Regions from separate parts of the Homo sapiens genome. Here region 1 is linked to region 2. Evidence: fine-mapped expression QTL. A gene starts in region 2. The other region holds a variant in brackets. All regions are shown on one strand. Distances are from middle to middle. Region 1 overlaps BMP8A (bone morphogenetic protein 8a). Region 2 holds the start of OXCT2 (3-oxoacid CoA-transferase 2).

What was found.
Region 1: its variant is fine-mapped to the expression of OXCT2 in atrial appendage (GTEx, PIP above 0.99). The same link has a PIP of 0.9 or more in fibroblasts, left ventricle, ovary, stomach, thyroid and tibial artery.

The regions. Positions count from the first base shown.
Region 1 is chr1:39,523,824-39,537,179 of GRCh38, forward strand. BMP8A (bone morphogenetic protein 8a) reads left to right here. Exons shown (of 7, transcript NM_181809.4): 7 at 1,826-6,046. The coding sequence ends at 1,975. It also overlaps the pseudogene PPIEL. Among named protein-coding and RNA genes, the nearest start is that of PABPC4-AS1, 35 kb to the right of the region's middle. The variant C/T (reference allele first, on the strand shown) is at 5,615.
Region 2 is chr1:39,768,243-39,776,242 of GRCh38, forward strand. It overlaps OXCT2 (3-oxoacid CoA-transferase 2), which reads right to left and starts at 3,106. Exons shown (of 1, transcript NM_022120.2): 1 at 1,281-3,106. The coding sequence starts at 3,013. The coding sequence ends at 1,460. BMP8B (bone morphogenetic protein 8b) reads right to left here. Exons shown (of 7, transcript NM_001720.5): 2 at 6,607-6,796; 3 at 6,066-6,214. RefSeq lists enhancers at 2,479-3,152, 3,153-3,825 and a silencer at 3,039-3,138.

The DNA of each region.
Region 1 (13,356 bases), 240 kb before region 2:
GGTATTGCACAGCCTTATGTTTTCCTCTTAGGAGGTTCAACGGTGATGCCTTGATCAGGCGCAGTGGCTCACCCTGTAATCGCAGCACACGAGCCCAGAAGTTCAAGACAAGCCTGAGCAACACAGCAAAACCCTGTCTCTAAAATAAAAATTAAAACACACACACACACACACACACACACACACGTGCGCACACAATGCCTTGGTGTGAGAGGAAAGAAATTACCAAAAGCTGCTCTGAGCCTATGATAATACTTCCTTTCTGGGCAGTCAAATGGTGTTTGCTGGACACCTGGAGCCATCTCCTTGGAAAGGCCCAGGGGTGATGAGGACGCGTGGGGTGGCCTGGCCCAGCCACCCTTTATGCCGTGTGGTTCTCACAGCTGCATGTGTGGGAGGTACATGGGAAGGTGACTGCACCTGCAGCTCCTGGACTCCATCTCCTCTGCCCTTGCCCCTGCCCCTCAGGGGCTCAACTAGAGTGAGTGCTCACAGCCTACAGGGCAGCAAACAGGCACTGTGCTCTAGGGGAGGCTGTCGGTGGGCACAGAAGCAAACCAACCGTGGAGTTGACACCTCCTGTGAGGAAGAGCAGAGCAGCCGTGCCGTCAGTGGAGTGAGACTGGGCCCAGCCTCTCCACACAAGGAGGGGCACGTCAGCAGCTGGAGGAGGAATGTTCCAGAAGGAGCAAGTGCAAGGCCCTAAGACAGGAGCAGGCTGGCCCTAAGTTCAGGGCCAGCAGGGAGGAGAGGGGCTGGGTGCAGTGAAGGGGAGGAGAGTGGAGGGAGGTGATGCCGGGGTGAGCCAGGCCAGCTCCCGTAGGGCCTGGGGTTCCCTGGGAAGGAGGGTGGATTTTATTCCAAGCAACCCCAGAGGCTGTCAGAGGTCTTCAGCAAAGCAGTGTCCTGGTCTGCGTCACCCTCCAGAAGGACCTTTCTGGCTTGGGGAGGCTGATGGTCGCGGGAGTGGAAGGCAGAGGAGCAGGGGATGAGTGAGGGCTGCTGTGGTCACCTGGCAGGTGATGGCAGCTCGACTGGGCAGGTGGTCCGAGGCAGCACGGAGGTGGAGGTTGAGCCAGGGGCTGCTCTCAGGGAAGGGAGGAGGCGAAAGGAGTCATCCAGGAGGCCTCCCAGGCGGGAGCTATGATGTCAGGGCGGGAGGAATTCTATGTTCCACTGAGGCCTCATTAGACCCCCAAGTGCAGAAGTGGGAAGGGGAGCAGGATCCGCAAGTCTGGAGTTCAGAAGAGAGGTCCAAGCTGAGCCAGGGGAGTGGAGAGGTGCGGGCACATGCAGGGCCTTGAAGTGCTGAGGGCGGATGCAGTCCTCTGGGAGAAGGAGCAGCACAGGAGAGGGGGCGAGGCCTGGCCTCCCAGAGCCTGGGGAGGGAGGCCAGGGTGTGGGGAGGCAGAGCCTCTGGGGGGGTCTGAAGGGCTATAAGAAGACAGTGGTCCTTCCAGGTTCCCCCTTGGGGACCTCACTAAGGGCACAAACCTGGCCATGAGGTTCTCCTTCCCATTATCCCCAGGAGGAAGTCTGAGCCCTTGGCCTGGGACTCGAGGCCCCTCATTAGTGCCCTGCCCACCTGCCCCACACCCTGGGGCTGCCATGTATCCCTCCCTGGGCACTGTGGGCCACCACAGCTCCCGCTCCCAGAGCTCTCAGGGCTGCTCTTATTCCTGTTAATAATTCTTATTATTGTGCTGCTCCCATGTGGCTTGGAGATGGCCAGGGCAGGGAGCAGGTGGAGCTGGGGCGGGGCTAGGTGGGTCCTCAGAGGAGGCCACTGGCCTCATGCCCCTGCCTGTGCTCCCTTCCTGGCCAGGTGCACCTGATGAAGCCAAACGCAGTCCCCAAGGCGTGCTGTGCACCCACCAAGCTGAGCGCCACCTCTGTGCTCTACTATGACAGCAGCAACAACGTCATCCTGCGCAAGCACCGCAACATGGTGGTCAAGGCCTGCGGCTGCCACTGAGTCAGCCCGCCCAGCCCTACTGCAGCCACCCTTCTCATCTGGATCGGGCCCTGCAGAGGCAGAAAACCCTTAAATGCTGTCACAGCTCAAGCAGGAGTGTCAGGGGCCCTCACTCTCGGTGCCTACTTCCTGTCAGGCTTCTGGTCCTTTCTCGGTACCTCTGTGCCCCTCCCCTGGGGTTTGTGGCTGTCACTCTGCCCGACACTTTGGTGGCCTAAGGCACACAGCAGCCTCAGAGCCTGTGCTGACTGCACTGTCTGGAGTCAGCACAGAAGTCCTATCTTAGGACCTGTCAGACTGTGGCTGGCCCCGGATGGTCTGAGGTTGGCTGACCCGAGCTTTTCTCCATTCACCAGAGGGTTTAGGTGTGAGGAGAAGGGCTCTGCCTCTTCCCAGGTACAACACTGGCCATTTCTGGGCAAAATTGGACACGCTTATGTTCTCAGCACAGTGTGTTCTGGGATTCTTCTCATTTGGTCCAGGGTGCAGTTAGCATATTAGAAAAAGAATAAGCTGGACATCCCCACGAAGCCACTGGGGATTTTTTTTTTTTTTTTCCAGATAGAGTCTCACTCTGTCACCCAGGCTGGAGTGCAGTGGTGCAATCCTGGCTCACTGCAACCTCTGCCTCCCAGGTTCAAGCAATTCTCGTGCCTCAGCCTCCTGAGTAGCTGGGATTACAGGGGCCCACCACCACGCCCAGCTCATTCTTGTATTTTTAGTAGAGACGGGGTTTCACCATATCGGCCAGGCTGGTCTTGAACTCCTGACCTCAGGTGATCCACCCGCCCGGCCTCCCAAAGTGTTGGGATGACAGGCATGAGCCACCGTGCCTGGCCACTGGGGATATTTTATGTCATGTGTATTCCCTTGCCCTGGGCCTGCCCCTTCTCCTGCCTGGGAAAGAGGTATGACTCCCACAGGAGCAAAGAATCCTGGGGGCTTCCAGTTCCCTCCACCATCTCTACCATGCTGACCCATTTGGGGCTCAGCACTGAGACAGAGGCAAGACCAGCAGCTCCAACATGTAGTGTAGGCTGGCACAGAGCAAATGCCCCCGCAGCCTGCTCCCCTTGCCCATGGCTCATGTCAGTAATCAACCTACGTACCTTTCCCACTGAACCAGGACAGGGCCTCCAGGCCTCAGCACAGAACTGCAGACAGCCACCACCAGGCATTGTCAATAAGACCTCAGTTCCCCCTCCTGCCCCACTGCAGAGCAATCCATTCCATCCAAAGCAGGGTGACTGGCAGTCTCCGGCCAGGCATGGGGCAAGGGTGGGGACTGCCAGTGTTTGCTTGTGTCTAGGAGTTATGAACAAGCTGGCCACCAAAATTGGCGTCACCCTGGGTGCCCACCAGCGCTGTCCTGTGTCTTGGGTCTGTGAGTCAAAGAAAAGGTCCCTGTCCCAGGGAGTGACAGGCAGTAATTAGGCTGAGTTGGGTGGGGAGGTTTGTCTCGGCCTCCACTGTTCCCGGAAACCGCTGTTCTCCTTGGAACAGCCACTGGGAGTTGGAGTGTTTATTTGATTTCTGACTTGCTAAGCCTGTAATTTACCTGCTGGAACAGACAGAGTCCAGCTGCCCAAACCGTGTCATTAAAAGCAGATCCTGGGCCCGCCCCATCCACAGGCACAGCCTGGCAGAGTGGTTCCACCTCCCCATGGGCCCAAGGATGCGCCTCTCTGGAGTTCACGTGCTGCACCCCCAGGGAGGGGCCTGGGGAGAGCTGGTCCAGCAGCAGGGGTGGAGGCTGGGGCCACACTGCGGGACAGCAGCCCCTCCACCTGGACCAGGGAGGGCCTCCATGTGCAAGCGCAGAGGAAGAGACCCTCTCATGTACATAAAGGGTGGGCCCAGGCTGTCTGGAAGATGGTGAGTTCCCCACTAGTCTAAGGCTTCAAGCTCAGCTAGCAGAGATTGGAAGAGGCAATGGCCTGAGTGTTAGGAGACAGGTATTCTGGTTCCAACTCAGCCACTGACTTGGTGTCAGGACAAGTCCCCTTTCTTATTCACGCTTCAGTTTCTCATCTGCAACATGAGGACATAGGACTCTTTAATTCCAAAGGCTCTTCCAACCCAGAGAACCCATCTGCCCCCATGACCTTCTCCCAGAGCTTGAGACATGGCCTGAGCCCCCTGCTGCCATAGGACTTGGGGCCTATCTGCCATTGCAGGACCTGATTTAACAGCTCTCTTCTTCCAATACTGGGCAGTAGAGTTTCGGAAACTGACAAATGTGTGGTCTCTTCAGTGCCCAGTGTGTAACCTGGCATGGTTTGGGTGTGCTAGGAGTTTGTGAAATGAATGTTTTCAAGACGCAAACGCTGCTATGCCCATCAGGTGTGCACAGCAGGCCTGAGGATCATGATGAGACTCCCTTTTTATGCAGCAAAGCACAAAGTGTGACAGTCGTGGCCTTCCTGGTGGCCAGACTTCTAGCAACTTTAGCCACCCACCAAATGACATCACATACAGAAGGCCTCAGAAAGGGAGGAGGTCGTAAGGACACACAGCTGATGAAGGGTCAGTGCTCAGCTATCAAGGTCATCTTCTGGCCTGGTTGCCTCCCACAGCCCAGGATGCATTCAAGGCTGCACATCAGGAGCATAAATAAGGGTGGTCAGCTCAGGCCCACTGGCTGCAACAAGTAGCCACTGACAGGGAGTCTGGGGCCATTTGGTGCAGAACAACCCCCAACCCAGTGGCCATCTTCACAACTGCAGCACAGTGCTGGCCCTAATGCCAGGTGAGCGTGCAAAGTCCTGTTTCTTTGTCTTTACATAGGGACCGGGCGATGCGCTTTAGAGAAATTCCCTATTATTTCACAGGAAAGGAGGCTGTGAAAAGGAGAGGGCAGGTTTTGGAGCCAAGTCGACCTGGCATCAGGTCCTGGCTGCCTTTTTTTTTTTTTTTTTAAAGACATACATGGTCTTGCTTTGTCGCCCAGGCTGGAGTGCAGTGGCAGTGTCATGGCTCACTGCAGCCTCAACCTGCTGGGCTCAAGCAATCCTCCCACTTCAGCCCGAGTTGCTGGGATGACAGGCACACGCCACCATACCCAGCTAATTTTTAAATTTTTTATAGAAACCAGGTCTCACTATGTTGCCCAGGCCGGTCTTAAACTTTGCCCAGGCCAGTCTTGAACTCCTGAGCTCAAGCAATCCTCCTGCCTCAGCCTCCCAAAGTGCTAGGATTACAGGCGTGAGCCACTTACCCGGCCTCTGCCTCTTGTTAATTTGACCACATCATGTACCTGCTGTGCCCGTTCCTTCCTCCGTAGAAGAGGGTGCTGGTCCTGCCCTTTTGAGGCCTCCATGAGGGCCAAATGTGCCATGGGACACTTAGTGCCATGCCTGCGCAGACCTGTGGAATAAACAGCAATTCTGAGCAGGCTCATTTTAAAGGGACTTGCAAATTTGGGCGTTCCTTGTGTGCCTTCCTCATAAAACCCACTCCTCCCAGAATATGCTTAGAGGTGCTGCTGTATTTACCTGAGAGCTATGCTTTTCATCAAAAACCTAAACGTGATCATCTCTTGGATGAGGTGTGGCCCTGCACACTCGCCTGCTCGTGGAAGGAGTCTGGGCCAGCAGTGACCCACGCGCTAGGGTCTCTGCTGAGGAAGTGGCAGGTGTG[C/T]GGCCCTGCCCTGGCCCCGTAGTGAGTGTGGGGCCCACCTGTGCCCTCATGGGCAGCTGAAGGGGGAGCTTTCTACCCCAGGTTCCTTTCCTTACTGAAAAGTCTTGAGCAAACAGTTGCCGCTCTCCACCCCCTGCTTTTTAAAAAAAATTTTTTCTCACGTAAGAAAATGTTATCTGTGTGCTGGGGAAAATTTTGAAAATAACAAAAACCAGAATACAAACACCCATAATCAATCACAGAGATAACCACTGTTCATAATTCCTTCCAGTCTTCTTACTTGGCACATATACATTTGTCTTTCTTTATATATGACATATGGATATTTTACAAAGTTAGGATCCTACTCTATGCACTGCTTGGTGATCGGATCTATTCAATGTACAAAATATTTTGAAAGTTTCTGTGATTAAATGTTCTTTGAAAACATAACTTTTAGCAGCCTTCCATCCCTTCAGTTCTGCTTTAGCTTCTCCCTTGTATGTCTGGTCTTGCGTTCCCTTCCTCAGAGGCCGGGATGGGGCTCCTGTGACCAGGGTGGCAGGCAGCCTAGTGCTGAGATCGCATGGCCACGAGGCTGGCCATGGGTCTGGAATCCCTGGGCCAAGAACCTCCTCTCCTTCTCTGTGCAGCAATTGGCACAAGCAGGGGCAGGTGCCTCACCTCTGAGGCTTAGGTGACCTCAGAGTACAAGGGTCACAGATGGACCCACTGGGATAACTTCCGGGGAAACCCTGATGGTTCCTCTCCCACTGGCCTCTGGCTGGTCCCTTGGTCCCTCCTTCCCAGGGTAATCAGGCAAGCACAGCAATAAGGTCCTCCCTTGTTTCACAGGGTTGTGGGACCAGTTCTCCCTCCCGGGGCCTCGGGCCAGCCTGCCTGTCACCCCCAGAACCCACAGTGTTGAGCAATTCACACACATCCTCTTCTCTCCTGGGCTTCATGGCAGCCCTGAGTAGCTGCCTTATCCTGGCCTCAATGCTGCCTGTCCTGACGGCCATGACTGACCACCAGTAATGACACCGACATTGAGGAGTGAGAGTGCCTGCTGGGAAAGCTGCAGGCCCAAGCTGATCAAGCGGGGAGAAGCCCCACCCAGGGTGCCAGAGGTGGAGCTGGCTTGGGGTCACTGGGGCCAGGGCAATAGGCTTCTCCTTTCCCCACCACCCTCACCCTGGTGGATACTCAACATCAAGACTTGATTCAGCCAGCATTCTGGGAGGCCAAGGCAGGTGGATCACCTGAGGTCAGGAGTTTAAGACCAGCCTGGCCAACATGGCGAAACCCCCATCTCTACTGAAAATACAAAAATTAGCTGGGCATGGTGGCGGGTGCCTATAATCCCAGCTACTTGGGAGGCTGAGGCAGAATTGCTTGAACCTGGGAGGCAGAGGTTGTAGTGAGCTGAGATCATGCTCCAGCCTGAGTGACAAAAGCAAAACTCCATCTCAAAAAAAAAAAAAAAAAAAAAAGGCTTGATTCAGACAGAGCTCCTAGGACATGTCATGGGAGCCAGTGGGCAGCCCTGGGGGAGGTTTCTGGAGACTGATAGGGCTCAGTTTCAACACCTGAAAGAGGCCATGAGGTGGCCTGGCTGGCCCAAAATCGGTGCAGGGTGAGAGGCCATCCTAGCACAGGCTGCGCACCATGACACCACACTGCAGTTTCCAGGTAGGCCTGGGGTTGGGGAGGAGGAAGTAGGAGCCACCCCTGGCTTGTTTCTCCCCAGCACCAAGCACATCCGCTGACTAAAGAAGCGCCCTGTGTGCTCCTCGGTAATACAGTTCTGTTGGTTCAGGAAGTGCATAATGAGTGCCAGGTCAGTGAGACTGATTACAAATGTCCATCAGGCACAAGACCAGCTGGTGTGAGAGCAGGAATGGTAACTGACCAGAAAGAAAAGACACAGGCACTTTTACATGGCTTTGACTTCTACTGCCCCACAATGGGCTGCCGAGGGCATCTCCTAAGGGACTTGGCCTAAGAGAGAAGAGCAGCAGCCGAGATGCTATGGCCTGTCCCAGCAGCAACCTCTGAAAACACCTGGGACCTGGCTGGCAGGCAGCAGTATAAGAACTAGAATTTATTTTAGCAAACCAAAGAGAACAAAACATCCAGGAGCCACATTGGTGGGCCCACAGCAGACCCAGCAGCAAATGCCGAGAAAAGTGGTGGTTGGAGAAGGAGCACCTGTGCTGGTTCGTGGGCCCACAGCTGCACTTGGGAACAGTCCAGGCTGTGCCTACAGAGGTGCTCCAAGCTGACCCTAAGGTGGGCCTCATGCCACAAATCCTGCTTGCTTCAAATAGGGCACCCTCGGTGCTGCCTCCTCTGAGGCTGGCAGCTCCTTCCTGGATGTGCAGGGGCAAGAGCAGAGTGGAGAGCAGAGAGAGTGCCGCCTCACACATACTCCCCACAGTTGCCAATGATCACCTTCTGCCTTGGCTTCCCATCCTTGCCTTTGCAGACAGAATAGAAGAGGGGACACTCAGGGGAGTGAAGGAGCAGAATAAAGACAGACTTTAGGGACATCCACCCCTACCTGCCCCCTGGGGACACTGGCCCTAACAGTGGTGGAGCTCACAATCTAGTGAAATACAGCCACCCAAAAAAGATGTGGATTCATCTCAGGAATGCAAAGTTGGTTTAACATCTAAAAATCAATCAATGTAATAGACAATTATCAATAGTATAAAGAACAAAAACCACATAATCATCTCAGATACAGAAAAAGCAGTAGACAAAATCCAACACCTTTTCATAATGAAAACTCAATAAACTAGGAGTGGAAGGGGGAACTTTCTCAATCTGATAAAAGGTATCAACAGAAAACTACATGTGAAAGACAAGATGCTTTCCCCCTAAGGTCAGGAACAAGACGAGGATATCTGCCCTTGACACTTCTATTCAACATTGTACTGAAGGTTCTAGCCAGGGTAATTAGGTGAAAAAAATGAAATGAAAGGCATCCAATCGGCAAGGAAAATGTAAAGCTATTTCTATTTGCAGATGACACACTCTTGCATATAGAAAATCCTAAAAAATCCACAAAAAAAACTATTAGAACTAATAAACAGGCCGGGCATGGTGGCTCACGCCTGTAACCCCAGCACTTTGGGAGGCCAAGGTGCGCGGATCACAAGGTCAGGAAATTGAGACCATCCTGGCTAACACGGTGAAACCCCATCTCTACTAAAAATACAAAAAATTAGCCAGGCGTGGTGGCGGGCGCCTGTAGTCCCAGCTACTCAGGAGGCTGAGGCAGGAAAATGGCGTGAACCTGGGAGGTGGAGGTTGCAGTGAGCTGAGATCGTGCCACCGCACTCCAGCCTGGGCGACAGAGTGAGACTCCATCTCAAAAAAAGAAAAAAAAAAGAACTATTAAACAAGTTTAGCAATGTTGCAGAATACAAAATCAATATACAATTGATTATATATATTTTTGTAGAGATGAGGTCTCATTATGTTGACTCGGGCTGGTCTCAGACTCCTGGACTCAAGTGATTTTCCCACTTCAGTCTCCCAACGTGCTGGGATTATGAGTGTGAACCACCATGCCTGGCCTGTTTTGTGGTTTTCAAAGTATAAGCTGTATACATCTTTTAAACTTATTCCTAAATATTTTATTCTTTTTTATGCTATTGTAAGTATAATTGTTTTTCTTTTTATTCTGTTTTCAGGTTGTTCATTGCTGATGTATAGAAATATAATTGCTATATCTACGGCCAGGCACGGTGGCTCACACCCGTAATCCCAACACTTTGGGAGGCCGAGGCGGGCAGATCACAAGGTCAGGAGATCGAGACCATCCTGGCTAACATGGTGAAACCCTATCTCTACTAAAAATACAAAAAATTAGCTCGGCGTGGTGGCGGGCGCCTGTAGTCCCAGCTACTCAGGAGGCTGAGGCAGGAGAATGGCGTGGACCCGGGAGGTGGAGCTTGCAGTGAGCTGAGATGCTGCCACTGCACTCCAGCCTGGGCGACATAGCAAGACTCTGTCTCAAAAATAAGAAAAGAAATATAATTGCTATATATATATGTGTGTGTATTTTTTTTAGAAGAGTCTTGCTCTGTTGTCCAGGCTGGAGTGCAATGGTGCAGTCACAGCTGTCTACAAAAATATTTTTTAAAATTAGCCAGGTGTGGTGGTGTGTGCCTATAGTTCCAACTAGTTGTAAAGCTGAAACATAAGGACCACTTGGGTACAGGAGTTCCAAGACTGTGGTGAGCTGTGATTGCACCACTGCACTCCAGCCTGGGCAATACAGTGAGACCCTGTCTAAAAAAAAAAAAAAAAGAATGAGAGAAACTATTTGCAAATTATACATCTGATAAGAGACCTGTATCTAAAATATTTAAAGAATTCTGACTCGCTAGGCATGGTGGCTTACATCTATAATCCCAGCATTTTGGGAGGACAAGGTGGCAGGATTGCTTGAGCCCTGGAGTTCGAGACCAGCCTAGATAACATAGCAAGACCCCATCCCAATTAAAAAAAAAAAAAAAAGAAAACCAAAGAACATTACTGAAAAACACTGAAGAAGACCTAAACAAATGAAAAGATATCCTGTGTTCATGGATCAGAAGACTTAATATTGTTAAGATGATGATACTCCTAAATTCTTCACATTCAGTGCAATCTGTATTAAAATCCTAGCTGGCTTTTTTCATACGAGTTGATAAGCTTATCCCAAAATTCTTAAGAAATGTAAGAGACTCAGGATAACCAAAACAATCTTGAAAGGAAAAACAAAGTTGGAGGACTCGCATTTCCAGAATTAAAAATTTACTACAAAGCTATGGAATTTAAGACACAGTAGTAATGGCCTAATAACAGACATACAGATCAACAAAATATAATTTAGAATCCAGAAGAAACCCTTACATTTATGGTCAACTATATTCACCAAGGATACCAAGACAATTAAACAGGAAAAAAACTAGCCTTTTCAACAAATGGTGCTAGGACGACTGAAAATCCACATGTAAAAGAGTAACGCTGGACCACTTTCCTCACACTATACACAAAAATTAACTTCAAATGGAGTAAAGACTTCAGTGTAAGAGAGAAAACCATAAAATACTTAATAGAAAGTGTAGGAGTAAATCTTCATAATCACTACACCAAAAGTACAAGTGACAAAAAAAGATAAATTAGACTTTATCAAAATTAAAATATTTTGTGCTTCAAACGACGCCATCAAAAAAGTGAAAAGACAACCTATAGAATGAAAGAAAAGGCCGGGCGCAGTGGCTCACGCCTGTAATCCCAGTACTTTGGGAGGCTGAGGCGGGTGGATCACTTGAGGCTAGGAGTTTGGGACCAGCCTGGGGAACGAAGTGAGAGCCCCATCTCTACAAAAAATAAGAAAAAATTAGCCAGGCATTGTGGTGCATGCCTGTAGTTCCAGCTACTTAGGAGTCTGAGACAGAGGGATCACTTGAGCCCAGGAATTTGAGGCCACAGCAAGCTGTGACTGTGCCACTGCACTCCAGTCTGGTCAACAGAGCAAGACCCCGTCACTACAAAAATAAAAAAAGAAGGACTCTTGACTATATTTGGTCAGGTGTGGTGACTCATGCCTATAATCCCAGCACTTTGAGAAGTGAAGGCAGGCGGATCACTTGAGGCAAGCCTGGGCAACACAGGGAGACCCTGTCTCTACAAAAAATAAAATTAGCTGGGCCTGGTGGCATGCACCTGTAGTCCCAGCTACTTGAAAGGCTGAGACAGGTGGATCACTTGGGCCCAGAGGGTCAAGGCTGCAGTGAGCTGTGATCACATCACTGCACTCCAGGCTGGGTGACAGAGTGAGAACCTGTCTCAAAAAACAAAAAACAAAAGAATTCTTACTCAACAATAGAAAGACAAATAATCCAATTAAAAATTGGTAAAGGGTCTGAAGAGACATTTTTCCAAAGAAGATATAGAGAAGGCCAATAAACACATGAAAAGATGCTCAACATCATTAACTAGCACGGAAATGCCAATCAAAACCACAATGAGATACCACTTCACATCACTAGGATAGGTCTAATAAAAAAAGAAGGATAATCACAAGTGTTGGTGAGGGTATAGAGGCATCAGAAACATCATACACTGCCGTTAAGAATGCAAAATGGGGCAGTGGCTCATGCCTGTAATCCCAGCACGTTGGGAGGCCAAGGCGGGCGGATCACAAGGTCAGGAGATCAAGACCATCCTGGCTAACACGGTGAAACCATGTCTCTACTAAAAATACAAAAAAATTAGCCAGGCGTGGTGGTAGGCGCCTGTAGTCCCAGCTACTCGGGAGGCTGAGGCAGGAGAATGGCGTGAACCCGGGAGGCGGAGCTTGCAGTGGGCTGAGATTGCGCCACTGCACTCCAGCCTGGGCAACAGAGTGAGACTCCATCTCAAAAAAAAAAAAAGAATGCAAAATGGTACAGCCACTTCAAACAGTCTGGTCGTTTCTCAAAACATTAAAAATAGTTATCAGCCAGACACGGTGGCTCATGCCTGTAATCTCAGCACTTTGTGCAGATCACTTGAGGCCAGGAATTCGAGACCAGCTGGCCATCATGGCAAAGCTCCGTCTCTACTAAAAATACAAAAATTAGCCGAGTATGGAGGTGCATGCCTGTAATCCTAGCTAGGGGAGGCTGAGGCAGGAGAATCTCTTGAACCAGGGAGGTGGAGGTTGCAGTGAGCCGAGATTGTGCCACTGCACTCTAGAGTGAAATTCTGTCTCAAAAAAAAATAAATAAATAGTTATATAACCCAGCATTTCCAATTCTATGGCTACATCTAAGAGAAATGAAAACATATGTCTACACAAAAATTTGTATGTGAATGTTCACAGTGGCATTATTTGTAATAGCCAAAAAGTAGAAACAATCTATCAACTTATGAATGGATAAACAAATGTGGGGTGCAGACAGTGGGTATTAATTGGCAATAAAAAGGAATGATGGGGCCGGAGGCGGTGGCTCACGCCTGTAATCCCAACATTTTGGGAGGCCAAGGTGGGCAGATCACGAGGTCAGGAGATCGAGACCATCCTGGCTAACACGGTGAAACCCCATCTCTACTAAAAATACAAAAAATTAGCCAGGCGTGGTGGCGGGTGCCTGTGGTCCCAGCTGGGAGGCTGAGGCAGGAGAATGGTGTGAACCCAGGAGGCGGAGCTTGCAGTGAGCCGAGACTGCACCACTGCAATCCAGCCTGGGTGACAAAGTGAGACTCCATCTCAAAAAAAAAAAAAAAAAAAAAAACCAAAAACCAAAACAAAAAGAAAAAAAAGGAATGATGTACTGATACATGCTACAACATGGATGAACCTTGAAAACATTATGCTAAGTGAAAGAAGACACTCACAAAAGCCTACATATTGTATGATTCCACTTATATTAAATGCCTAGAATGGGAAAATCCATAAAGACAGAAAGTAAATTCGGGTTTCCCAGGGCAGGGGACCAACAGGATAAGTAGCAACTGCTAAAGGGTATGAAGTTTCCTTTTGGGGGATAAAATGTTCTAAAATTATTTGTGGTGATGGTTGCACAACTCTGTGAATACATTAAAAACCATTAAAATGTGTACTTTAAGTGGGCAAACTGGATGGTATGTAAATAATATCCTACTAAAGCCGTTAAAAAAAAAAGATAATTACACTACAAAATGGCAAAGCCCAGTGACAGAGACATTTGTGCATAGAATGGGAGCACTAGAGTCACCTAAGTGTTTGTGAAAAAGAGAAA
Region 2 (8,000 bases):
CAGGAACAATTCAAATGAAGCTGAGAAAACTCATCTAGTCCCTTGGTTAGGGTTCTAGAACTCCTCCTGTCCTAGGCTGTAGCCTTTGGCCACACACAGAGGAAGCTTCCTGGTGGATTTCAGCACCGGCAGCCTCTCCCCTCTCAGTCTCTCCCATCACCCGGTCCCTTCCCTTGGAGATGGTCCTGCTTTCCTTCTACGGACATCTAGAAGCTTAACATCTCATAGGTCCCAGGAGGAGAGATGTGGGAGGAGGAGGGGAGGCTTCAGGGAAACAAAATTTAACAACAAAGGCCCCAGAAGAAATACCAGATAACGGATAAAAACGTTCAAGAAGGCTGGGTGCAATGGCTCAAGCCTGTACTTTGGGAGGCCAAGGCAGGTGGATCACCTGAGGCCCAGAGTTTGAGACCAGCCTGGCCAATATGGAGAAACCCTATCTCTACTGTTAAAAATATATATACAAAAATTAGCTAGGCATGGTGGCACATGCCTGTAATCCCAGCTACTTGAGAGGCTGAGACATGAGAATTGCTTGAACCCAGGAAGCAGGGGTTGCAGTGAGCTGAGACTGGACCACTGTACTCTAGCCTAGGTAACAGAGCGAGATTCTGTCTAAAAAAGAAAAAAAATTACAGTAAGCTAAGGTTAATTGGCCCAACTCAGTGGCTCATGTCTGTAATCCCAGCACTTTGGGAGGCTGAGGCAAGTGGATCGCTTGAGCTCAAGTGTCCAAGACCAGCCTGGGCAACATGGTGAAACTCCATTTCTATAAATAAATTTAAAAAATAAAAAAAAATAAGCAGGCATTGTGATGTGCGCCTGTAGTCCCAGCTACTCAGGAGGCTGAATTAGGATTGCTTGAGCCCAGGAGGCAGAGGTTGCAGTGAGATCACTGCATTCCATTGCATTCCAGCCTGAGCGACAGAGCCAGACCCTGCCTCAAAAAAAAGAAAAAAGAAAGAGAAGGAAAAAGAAAAAACAAGCTCGTGAAGATAGCATGTCTTCCAATCACAAACTCACATCTTTGCTCGCCTATTTCTCACTGCAGTAGTAAAATGTCCCTTCAGGTGTACTCTGGGTTGAGTGATTTTCTCCCTCGTCAGTTTTTATCTCCATTTCATGGTTCAAGTACGAGGGAGGCGCTTGAATCAAATCTTGCTGTGAATGCACTGAGCTGTGCACGCTCTGTGTAAACATCACAGAGCAAAGCGGACATCCATTCCTCACCACTGCAGACCTGCGCCTTGCAGTGCTCGAGAAACACAGTGAGGAACTGATCTGTTTTCCTGTTGTTTTTAATTAAAGTCGCAGCTCTCTAGAGGAGCACTGTCCACCTAGGGAGGAAAGTAGGAGGCCAGTAGCAAACCCCTCCCAGAGCTGGGGACATGTATTCCCCTGGGGAACCCGGTGGCACCCGCCCTGAGGAGCGCACCACCCCGCCCAGATCCAGGTCCCGTCAGGGTGCCACCTGCTGCATGGGCCTGAGGTTCGGGGACACAGCAAAGGCACACCCCGTGCTCTTTTTGATGTCGTCCACCGTCAGGCCCTCCCAGAGCTCCCTCAGCGTCAGCTCTTTCTTCCTGTGCACGTCAAACACGGCCTTCTCGGTGATGATGCGGTCCACGCACCGCTTCCCGGTCAGCGGCATGGTGCATTTCTCCATGATCTTGGGGGTGTTGTCCTTTGTGCAGTGCTGCATGGTGACCACCACTCTGGTCTTCTGACTGGACACCAAGTCCATGGCACCGCCCATGCCTTTCACCTTCTTGCCAGGGATCATCCAGTTCGCCAGGTCGCCGTATTTGGAAACCTGCATGGCTCCAAGCATGGTTAGTTGGATGTGTCCCCCTCGGATCATGGCGAAGGAGTCGTCGCTGGCGAAGAAGCAGCCCCCGGGAAGCACCGTGACCGTCTGCTTGCCTGCATTGATGAGGTCGGCATCCACCTCATCTTCCGTGGGAAACGGGCCCAGGCCCAGGATCCCGTTCTCACTGTGAAGATGGACAGTCATGCTGGGACTGATGAAGTTGCTGGCCAGCAGGGGGATGCCTATGCCCAGATTGGCGTACATGCCGTCCTCAAATTCCAGAGCTGCGCGTCTGATGATGCGCGTCCTGGCGTCCTCTTCCTTTCCAGCGTCTCCATCTTCCTCTTTCAGGATCGTTAAGCGCTCAATTCGTTTCTCGTATTTCTGCCCCTTTATCACGCGATCTACATAAATGTTAGGAACGTGGATGTCTTCTGGGGGGAAAGCCCCCACCTCCACGATCTCTTCCACCTCCACCGCCGTGACGTCTGCAGCTTTGCACATGGGCACGTTGAAATTGCGGGCGCTTCTCCTGAAGACCACGTTTCCTGCCCGGTCGGCCTTCCACCCTTTCACCAGGGCGAAGTCTGCCCGGATGGCGCGCTCCAAAAGGAAGTGGTCGCCGTTGAACTCCCTCACCTCTCGGGGCTGGCTCATGAGCGCCAGGTGGCCGTCCGGGGTGTAGCGGATGGGGGCGCCCCCTTCCTGGACCAGGGTCCCGTAGCCCGTGGGGGTGTAGAAGGCGGGCACCCCGGCGCCCCCCGCGCGGATGCGCTCGGCCAGGGTGCCCTGGGGCGTGAGCTCCAGCTCCAGCTCTCCTGCCAGGTACTGGCTCTCGCACAGGGTGTTCTCGCCCACGTAGGAACAGACGATGCGACGGACCTGCCTGGCGGCCAGCAGGAGGCCCAGGCCGAAGTCCTCCACGCCCACGTTGCTGCTGACCACCTGCAGGTCTTTCACGCGGGTCCTGAGCAGCGCGGCGATCAGGTTCTCGGGGATCCCGCAGAGCCCGAAGCCCCCGATCATGACGGTCGCCCCGTCAGAGATGTCCTTCACCATCTCCACCGGGTCCGCGTAGAACTTGGCACGGAGCCGGGGACTGGTGGCAAAGCAGCGGGCGCAGCCCTGGGACAGCGCGAGCCCTGAGCCGCCGGCGGGGACCCCGCGCCCGAGCACTGACGCCAGGAGCCGCAGCGCCGCCATAGTCGGCCCGGGTCGGAGGCCAGGACAGGTGGTGTGAGCCCTGCGTGCGCCTCGGGCCGCGCGTCACAGAGCAGGGCGGGCGCCCGCGCCCTGACGCACTCCCTCCCAGCAGGTCTCCCCGGCCAGGCGCAGGCTCTAGGCTAGGCCCGCGACCCGCAACAGGGAGGGGGCCGGCTCCGCCCTGGGCTGGGGGCCCCCGAGTCAGTCCTCCGTGTCCAGCGCACAGGCCCGGGCGCAGGACAGAGCTGAGGTCAGGCTCCGCGAGAAGGGCACAGGCTAGGTCCCCTCCTGCCCCAGTGGAGCCTCAGACACAAACTCCAACCACCCCGCCCAAGCTTCCCCCCAGCTTCCCCAGCTCATTAAAGACACCAAGTGTCCAATGAGCAGGCGCCGCTGGGTGACACCGACGCTCATGAACACCTTCACTGGGCATCACTCTGTGCCAAGCACCCTCCTTTAATCCTGTGACAACCCGGAGAGTGAGTGCCTGCCCCACTACAGCCTCCCAGAGCTCAGGTTCACCCCTCACTGCGACAGTGGGGACAGTATCCCTCACCTCCATCAGGAAGGGTCCCTGCTCTGAAGAGGCCCCCCGTCTTGTCCTCTGCATCCCCCCGCCCTCTCCACCTCCCCCACTCCAGCTCCCTGCTCCAACTTGTGCGGAATTTTGCAGTTTTCTTCCCTCTGCACAGAATCACTGCATCACCACAGCAGCGTGCAGGCGTCTCCTCACCTGGAAAGGACCTGCCTTGTCCCGGGTTCTCTCCAGCCCCAGCCCATGTCTCTGCTCCCCTTCCCCAGCAAAGGTTCTGGAAAGAGCTGTCTCCTGCCTCCACTGCCTGTCTCCCTCCACCTCCTCAGTCAGACCCACACTCCACGGATATTTAGGTCATCAACAACCTCTGTGATGGCAAAACCCTTGGTCACTTCTCTGTTCTTGCCTTCAGTGCCCACAGCAGGACACAAATGACAAACCCTTGCTTCTGGAAACACTTTACTCTGGCGTCTAGATCACCTCATCCTCCAGGTGTCCTGCTCCCTCCCTGGCTGGTCTCTGTGGGCTCTCTGTGGCCCCTCCTTGTGAGGTCTCTGGATGTTGGAGGTCCCAGGGCTCTGGGCCAGGCCCTCTTTCTTCTCCATCACTACCCTCCTTCCCTAGATGACCTGGTCCCATCCCATGCTTTAAATCCACTTACATGCCAGCACCTCCCTCGCCTGGGTCTTCACACTCACCGGTCCCTGTAATGGCATTTCCATGAGGACCAGTGATCTCAGTAACATCCCAGGGGGGTCAGTAATATTCCAGCCAAAAGAGAACCCTTGGCCACCCACCTCAAACCTGCCCTTCATCTATCTTTTCCCCAAAAAGAAAAATCTATTGAAAAAAATCCACTGGCTCCAACCACACATCATTCAGGCTTCCTCCTGTTCCCTCACCTCCTCGCCAGCTATAAGCATGTCCTGACACTGAAATCGACTCATCTTTCTCCATCTCCACTGCTACCAACAAGTCGCTCACAGCGCCCACCTGGACCACTGTGGGGCCCCCACACGTCTCTCTGACTTCACTCTTGTCCATCTCAGTCTGCTCTCTCCACTGAAGTCAGGGGGTTCTTTATTTTATGCATATATTAAGTTTTAATTTTACAACAGTTGATAGTTACATAAAACTTTGTAAAGATAGTACAGAGGCTAAGGTGGGAGGATCGCTCGCGCCCAGGAGTTGGAGGTTACCGTCAGCTGTGATTGCGCCACTGCACTCCAGCCTGAGCAACAGAGCCAAACCCTGTCTCAAAGAAAAAAAAACTACACAAGGAGTTCCCATACACCTGGACCCAGTTTCCTCTGGGAAATGCTAATATTTTACACTAGCAGGGTACCTTTCTCATAACTAATGAACCAATACTGATACCTTATTATTAAGTAAACACCATGATCGATCTGGATTTCATAACTTCTCCCTAATGACCTTTTGCTGGTCCAGGACTCAACCCAGGACCCCACATGCACTGAGCTGGTCTTCTTAGGTGCCTCTGGGCTCCTCCAATTTCCCAACCTTCCCTTTTTTTTGATGAGCTTGGCGGTTTTGAGAAGCGCTTGTCAGGTATTCTGCGGAAAGCCCTTCTCTTTGGGTTTGTTTGACGGTTTTCTCGTGGCTGGACTGGGGTTTTGGGTTCACGGAGGGGGCCCTCTGAGGCTCAGTGGCCTTCTCCTTCCCTTTCACCCAGGGCACATGCTAGCACCGTGCCGGTCACTGCAGTGAGCCTTCCTCACCTGGCTGAGGCGCTGCGCGTCAGGTCCCCCACGCCCTGTCCACACCGCACTTTCGGGAAGCAAGTCACTGGGTGCAGCCCACGGAAGGGGTGGGGAGCTCTGCTCCACCCCGAGAGGGGGGCATCTCAGAGGGTTCTCTTTTAAAACCTGAATCAGATCCTGTCGTCCTCCACTGCTAGTAAATAAAATAAATGACGCTAAGAACCCCAGCACCTGGCCCTGGTTTACTCTGACTCAGAATGGCCCCTGGGTCCCCCGCCCTCACCGCTGCTCCATGGCGCCCCCTTGCCGGGCCTCAAACACACCCATCTCGTGCCCACTTTGGCCTCTGTATTCCTACTGCCTGGCATAAAAGAGGCTCTCCCCAGTGTCACCTGTGGAATGAACAAGGGCGTGAATCCCCATCCTGCGGAAGAGAAGACGGGGTCTGGAAAGGTAAGTCCCAGCCAAGGTCACTGAGGCAGGGCACTGCCAAGCTGGGCTTCAAACCCAGCCTCCTGGCCTCAGTGCCTGAGGGTACAGCCACTTCCCCTCCTTCCCTTCCCAGGACAGAAACTCCCAAGGTGGAGGCTGCTCCGTGGGAAGAGCCGCCTGCTTCCTGGGAAGCAGAGGGAGAGGAGGGAGCACCCCCACTAGGCCAGACCTCGTGCCCTGGACCTCAGTGACCCTTGCAGCGGGCACAGCTGGTGAGGCCGGGCACCCAGGGCCACAGGAAGCCACTACCGCTGCCTGTGCTGGCACAGAGAAGCCCCAGGGGCTGCAGAGCCCCCAGCCTCACCGTCCTCAGTCTCCACATAGAGGCGGAGTCCCAGGTCCTTGTGACGCTTCAGCAACCAGCAGTCACTGGCTGCTGTGACATCCAGCACCAGCCAGCCCTCGTCTCCAGCTCGGAGCGTCTGAAGATCCAAAAAGAACAAGTCAGACTCCCTGTGGACATGAAAGAACAATTAACCGGCGGCCGGCACAGCTGCCTCCGTGTCTCCAGGGCCCGCTGGGGGCTGTCACCGGAGTGTCTCCCACCTGACTCTGGCTGCGCCCCTTCTGAGCCTCATCTCATTGCCTCAGCCCACAGAGGTGTACACATGGGGAAACTGAGTCTCAGTGACCTGTCCAAGTCCCCACAGCCAGGATGGCAGGGCAGGGACTTGAAGTCAGGATTGTCACTGGGGCTCTTCCCACAGTGCAGGGGCCTCGGGCCAAGCATCCTTCCCATCTTTGAGGCTCTCTTTCAGCCCACCACGACTCCCTGCTGGGCTGCCTTGACCATGAGACTGTGAGGTGGGGGGTTAGGTGGGGCACCCGGGCCAAGGGGAAGGCACCTGTTGGACTGCTCCTGGACCACCTGGAACATGCTGACGTGGAGGGTCCTGTTGAGCAGGTGGATGCTGGGCACCTTGTAAATCCGGAACTCCGCAGCTGTGACCGCCTCCCCAGCCGGGATCTGGGTCAGGTCAAAGCGGAACTCCTTCCAATGGGGCTCCTGGTGGCCCAGGGCACGGTCTCGCTCCACTAGAAGACAAAGCAGCGCTGGGCTGGCACTCAGAATGGCTCGGGCTCTGGAGGGGGCAGAGCTGGTGTGAGCCACCGCCCCCAGCCACCCACCACTCAAGGTGGAGCGGACCCAGGGAGGCCTGGGTGGGGCCGGCTTCATTTAGTGCAAACGTTTGTTCCAGGCTTGGTCCCGGGGTGTAGACAGGGCCAAGAGGCCCTGCAGCCAGGCTCACCCTGAGCCCCGCAGCTGGCTGGTGCTCAGCAGGCCCCAGGCTCCAAACCCTGAACTCCCGTTGCGCCCCCTTCTCGGCCCGGCTGGTCCTGGGACTCAGAGATGAGACAGAGGAGGGAGCCTCCTCTGGGAACTTCCAGGCTAAAGGGAAGATGGACATTGGACCCAAGGCAGAAAAGGGCCCCAGCCCTGCAGGGAAACCTGGTAGACAGGAACATAACCGACATAACTGACGGCATCTCAGGGGACACAAGGCATCCAGAGCCTGCCCACTGCCTGGATGGGAGGTGCGGCAGGGGAGGGCTCAGGGCTGACAGCTGAGCTGGGCTGAGGCATGAGTGCGAATCTGCCATGGTGTCAGGGAGACGGGCCCTGCAGGGGCCGGCCAGCCAAGGCAGAGGGCCAGAGCAGAGGGGTCTGAGGGCAGGGCAGGGAAAGCAAGCACCAGGAAACAGCAGAGGGCAGGAGACCCACGTTTCCTTTCTGGAACAAGCTGGAAGAGGAAGGAGGGAAACGTGGAAAGGAACAAGAAAAACCAGGGCAGGAGTGACAACTCCCAGAGAGGCCAGTCAGGTGCTGGGGAAGTCGGAGGGTCTCACTGGGTGATGGGATCTGAGCAGGTGGCATCTGAACTGGCTTTGAAGGGTGGGATGGGTCTTGGTAGGTGGAGAAGGTGGCAGGGAGGGTGCTCTAGGGAGAGGGGACCTCGCATGCACAGGGTGGAGGCGCCCACAGGTCAGCGATGTTGGGGACGGCACATGAGCTCTGCTGCGGCCTGCCTGCTGAGGGTGCGAATCCCGGGCCAGGAGCCTGGGCTGCGCCTCTGGCCAGTGGGAAGCACAGGGGACGGGGGCAGCAGGGAGGCGGCGTGGGTGGAGGGGAATTAGAAGACACAGTGGAGGTGAGGGTAGAGGCCAGGCTGGAAGTGAGATGGGCAGCAGGGCCCCGTGGCAGGGGCTGGCCTGCCAATCAAACAAAGGCTGTAGTTGC